2 separate regions of the Homo sapiens genome follow, and region 2 is linked to region 1. Evidence: fine-mapped expression QTL. Tissue or cell type: whole blood. Region 1 holds a variant in brackets; the other region holds the start of a gene. All regions are shown on one strand. Distances are from middle to middle.

Region 1 (2,749 bases):
CCTGGCTCACCTGCCCCCCTCCCCAGCTCACCCACCTCCTCTCCGGCCCACCTATCACCCCCCCAGCTCACCCACCTCTTTGACAATGATGGCACGGTGGTGTTCGCCATCTTCATGGCTCTCTGGGGTGAGTTGCTGCGGGACGCCTCTGCGGGGCCAGGGGAAGTGCCAGCCCAAGCTCCGAGGTCCACCTGGCGTAGTGCAGTGATGCCCCTCCTTGCCCCCGCCGCAGCCACGGTGTTCCTGGAGATCTGGAAGCGGCAGCGCGCCCGCGTGGTCCTGCACTGGGACCTGTACGTGTGGGACGAGGAACAGGTGAGGTGGAGCTGGCAGCGCAGCTGAGGCCGACCCGAGCAGGGGCTGTTGGCGCCCGATGCCCTGCACGGCCCACATATGCCTGCCGTGTCTGAGGTGTGTGTCCCGAGTCTGTCTCCCCACATGTGGGGCGTGTGTCCTGGTCTGTCCACCTGTGAGGCGTGTCCCTGTGTCTGTCTCCCCACGTGTGGGGTGAGTGTCCCGTGTCTGTCCACCCGTGAGGCGTGTCGCTGTGTCTGTCTCCCCACGTGTGGGGTGCGTGTCCCATGTCTGTCTCCCCATGTGTGGGGTGAGTGTCCCGTGTCTGTCCACCCGTGAGGTGTGTCCCTGTGTCTGTCTCCCCACGTGTGGGGTGAGTGTCCCGTGTCTGTCCACCCGTGAGGCGTGTCCCTGTGTCTGTCTCCCCACGTGTGGGGTGAGTGTCCCGTGTCTGTCCACCCATGAGGCATGTCCCTGTGTCTGTCTCCCCACGTGTGGGATGAGTGTCCCGTGTCTGTCCACCCGTGAGGCGTGTCCCTGTGTCTGTCTCCCCACGTGTGGTGTGAGTGTCCCGTGTCTGTCCACCCGTGAGGCGTGTCCCTGTGTCTGTCTCCCCACGTGTGGGGTGCGTGTCCCGTGTCTGTCTCCCCATGTGTGGGGTGAGTGTCCCGTGTCTGTCCACCCGTGAGGTGTGTCTCTGTGTCTGTCTCCCCACATGTGGGGTGAGTGTCCCTTGTCTGAGGCTTGCCCGGTGCTCTCCCCAGGAGGAAATGGCACTTCAGCTCATTAACTGCCCCGACTACAAGCTCCGGCCATACCAGCACTCCTACCTACGCAGCACCGTCATCCTCGTCCTGACCCTGCTCATGGTACGCAGGGGACACCGCGGTGGGGCTGGAGACCCGGGCTGCATGCCCTCCCCGGCCCCCGCCCACCACAGCTGTCCCGCAGATCTGCCTCATGATCGGCATGGCCCACGTCCTGGTGGTCTACCGCGTCCTGGCCTCCGCGCTCTTCAGCAGCTCGGCCGTGCCCTTCCTGGAGGAGCAGGTGACCACGGCCGTGGTGGTGACCGGGGCTCTGGTGCACTATGTGACCATC[A/G]TCATCATGACCAAGGTGGGGCCGGGAGCAGGGCAGGCCCGAGCTGGGGGGTCCACCGGAGCCCCAGTGAGCCCATTCGGTGCCCTCCTCCGCAGATCAACAGGTGCGTGGCCCTGAAGCTTTGTGACTTCGGTGAGAGGACTACCCCAGACCCTCTTGGGGGACCCGGCGGGAGGACTCAGGGCTGGGGCCTTGGGGCTGTGGTCAGAGAGCAGGGGAGGGGACCCTTCCTGCTGCCCCAGGGCCTCTCCTATGAGCAGGGAGAGAGGTGAGGGCCGGTCCCATTCCAGAGATGCCCAGGACCTTCTCGGAGCGAGAGAGCAGGTTCACCATCCGCTTCTTCACACTGCAGTTCTTCACCCATTTCTCGTCTCTCATCTACATCGCCTTCATCCTGGGCAGGTAGGGCCGGCGCCAGGCTCCCTCCAACCCAACTCACGAGGGCTTGTTCCACTGCCTTTAAAGTGGCAATGTCCATTCTTTTAATTTTAAAAGTAATTTCTGCTGAGAGCAAGTGGAAATCCAATCTAGAGACATGTGAGCAAAGCCTGCAGTGAGCCCAGCTCCTGAATCCCGGGCCCCGAGGTAGCATCAAGACAGTCTGGTGGCCTCCCAGGCTTTTTCATGCATTTGCAGGCGCATAACAGCACTGGCAGAAATGGCTTTGTCCTGGGAATAACTGCACCTGCTCTTTATGCTGAAAATGCACTTGGTGTCTTCCTGGGTCTGCCTGCCCACACATCCTCGTATACATGTATATATGAGAGAGAGAGAGAGAGAGACAGAGACAGGGTCTTGCTGTCGCCAGGCTGGTGTCCAGTGGCACAATGTTGGCTCACTGCAGTCTTGACCTCCTGGGTCTCCTGAGTAGCTGGGATTACAGGCGTGCACCACCACACCCAGCTAATTTTAATATTTTTTGTAGAAATGGGGTCTCACCGTGTTACCCAGGCTGGTTTCGAATTCCTGGGCTCGAGCGATCCTCCTGCCTCAGTTTCCCAAAGTGTTAGGATTTCAGGCGTGAGCCACTGCACCTGGCCAAAAAAAGGTGCATATGGATTGATGGAGCCAGAAAGACTCATTTCACTAATTAGGAAGGCGAGGTGAGAGGGATGCTGGCTGCAGCTTTACTTTTTTTTTGAGATGGAGTCTCGCTCTGTCGCCCAGGCTGGAGTGCAGTAGCATGATCTTGGCTCGCTACAACCTCTGCTTCCTGGGTTCAAGCAATTCTCCTGCCTCAGCCTCCTGAGTGGCTGGGACCACAGGTGCGCACCACCACACCCAGCTAATTTTTGTATTTTTTGTAGAGAAAGGGTTTCACCATGTTGGCCAGGCTGGTCTCGAGCTCCTGACC
Region 2 (2,500 bases), 110 kb before region 1:
GCATCCTCTCCATCCCGTCTAGAGCTGCCCCTGTGCCAGGCGAGTTGGCCGGCTGTTGACAGAGGTGGTGGGTGGGAGTGTTGGAGCGGGGCAGTGGCTCAGGCTCTGGGTGCCTCACTGGCCTGGTCTGGAAGGTGACCATGCACCAAGGATCAAAGAAGTGAAGCCCAAAGCAGAATCTCATGGAGTTTCCAGCCCAAATCTCCCCCACTGCCTGCCTTTCTCCAGCCAGTGCAAGGCCCCAGGCCTCACAGCAGGACCCCAACACTGCATCCCCCCAAAGACTCTGGCCACCTCCATCCCAGGCCTGCCAGCCTCGAGCCTCATGGAGGGCGTGAGCTGGCGGGGTCACGGGCAGCCCCTGGACACCTATGGGTGACACTAAGGGCTGAGTCAGCTACCCTTGTCTCCTCTGTGCCCAAGAGCCCCAAGCATCAGACTGGTCTGAGCCCCAAGGCCTGGGGGTGCAAGGGGTTGGAGGCTGTGGGATCCAAAGACCCCATTGAACTCCCACCTCAGACACTGCACCTAGTGTTCTCACCCAGGCCTGAACCCATCCACACACTTCACGGCCCTGCTCCCACCCTGTGTCCCCTCTGCAAGCCCCCATGCTCCCCAAATTGGTAACTGGGGGGCCTGTCTCCACACCCCTGCTAGTGCCATTCCCTGGTGGGTAGCCATCACCTCTGGGTCCCCTGCTGCCCTCGCCCCTTCACCATGGGGGCTCGGAAGGCAGAGCCCGCTCCCCTCCTGAGCCCCACCCTGGAACCCTGAGCACCCTGGGTCATTGCCTCTGAGTCTCCCTCAGGGGCAGGGCTTGGGGCCCCTCCTGTCTCCTGACAGGGAGCCCTTTCAGTGCAGGGCCAGGGGGTGGTGGAGGCAAGGGTCCTCAGGGGACCAGATCTGACATGCGGGGCCATCACTGGGTCCCCGATGGCTGTGCTGCTTCGTCCCCGCGCCCACGCCTCGGCGCAGGTTCCCTCCTGGCACCGGTCATAGGGCGAGGCTTGCGGCTCCCACCCCAAGGGTGCGCTCGGCTCTCACCTGAGGGCTCAGCCTAGGTGTCCGGCCCTGGCAGCTCGGCCCTGGGCGCCCTCCACCTCCAGGCGCTGTCTCCTACTCCAGGCTGTTCTTCCGGCCGCCGCGGGGTTGCGGCCTGGGCGCCATAGCAACGGGAGCCAGGCCTCATTTGAATACGCAAATATTTATAAGTCGCCGGGGGCTCGGGTTCCGTGCGGCTGAGCCACGCCCCTTAGCAACGGTCGCTAGGGCGGGGCCACGTGGACTGGCACGTGCGTGGGCGCCCCTGCTGCGGGCGATCCCAGGGGAAGGTGACGCGCCACCAACTCGAGTTGGGTGGGCGCAGGCGCGTCAGGTGCCAGCTTCCTGCGGCTCCGTGCCTGGGCCGTCGCGATGCACGTGTCGCGTTTCCTCGCGATCCTGGCGCTTCCCACGCGGGGCGGGTAAAGGCGGTCTCTGCTGGAGGCTCGCGCCCACCTTTCCCAGGTGGAAGGGTCGCCCCTGGGGCCGAGGCCTGCCGTCCTGACCTTCGGTTGGAAGTGAGGCCGACGGCAAAAGGAAGCACCGGGGGAAGCGCCCCCGAGGACCAGGAAACACACACCGGACGCCGGAGCGCACCCGAGTGCCCGGCCCGCGGGACACGCTGCCGCCCGCCGTCCAGTCGCCGCTTCTCACTCGCGTTCATGCGTGTCCGCCCCGAGCCGAGCTCTGACTGCGACCGCGCGGTGGACGGACGGCAGGCGGGACCCCCGGGACCGCACGTGGGTGGAGCCCCGGGTCAGCAGCGACCGGCGCAGGAGGGCGAGGCGGGCGCTGGACTGGGCAGAGGCAGGGTTTGCCTGACTGTAAAACGCCTTTTTTGTTTTGAGACGAAGTAGCGCTCTGTTGCCCAGTGCAGTGGCGCGATTTCGGCTCACCGCAACATCCGCCTCCCGGGTTCCAGCGATTCTCCTGCCTCAGCCTCCCGAGTAGCTGGGACTACAGGCGCGCGCCACTGCAGCCGACTAATTTTTTGTGTTTTTAGTAGAGACAGGGTTTCATCATGTTGGCCAGGCTGGTCTTGAACTCCTGACCTCAAGTAATCCACCCGCTTAGGCCTCCCGAAGTGCTGGGATTATAGGCGTGAGCCACCGCGCCCGGCCCTTTTTGTTTTTTAATGAGGATGTATTTCTGATTCCTTTGCAATTTTAAAAAATGTTAAAAACATGTCTTTTTGGGTTTGAAAGAGCTAGGATGTGCGTCTATGTGCTTGGGGTGAGCCCTGGGCACTTCGCTCCCCTGTGGCAACTTGTGGGTACGGTTTAACTGGACCACGCTGAGCTTCTGCAGCGTTGGAACCTCAAGTTTGGGGGGACTGGGCGGGCAGGGTCGCCTGCCACGCAGGCCCGAGAAAGAGGAGAGTGGTGGAGGGGGCGTTCTCACGCCTGGCCCCAGGGCACACGGCTGCGCCCGCCGCCCGGAACCCCACCGGGGCTGCAAG

What was found. PIP is the estimated chance that this variant, and not a neighbour inherited with it, causes the effect.
Region 2: LRRC56 starts here. The variant in region 1 is fine-mapped to the expression of LRRC56 in whole blood (INTERVAL, PIP above 0.99).

Annotation. Positions count from the first base shown.
Region 1 is chr11:427,136-429,884 of GRCh38, reverse strand. It overlaps ANO9 (anoctamin 9), which reads left to right. Exons shown (of 23, transcript NM_001012302.3): 10 at 67-127; 11 at 233-315; 12 at 1,059-1,163; 13 at 1,246-1,410; 14 at 1,491-1,527; 15 at 1,686-1,797. Among named protein-coding and RNA genes, the nearest start is that of ANO9, 14 kb to the left of the region's middle. RefSeq lists an enhancer at 140-1,339. The variant A/G (reference allele first, on the strand shown) is at 1,396.
Region 2 is chr11:536,150-538,649 of GRCh38, reverse strand. It overlaps LRRC56 (leucine rich repeat containing 56), which reads right to left and starts at 1,123. Exons shown (of 14, transcript NM_198075.4): 1 at 1,045-1,123; 2 at 1-52. RefSeq lists an enhancer at 2,415-2,500.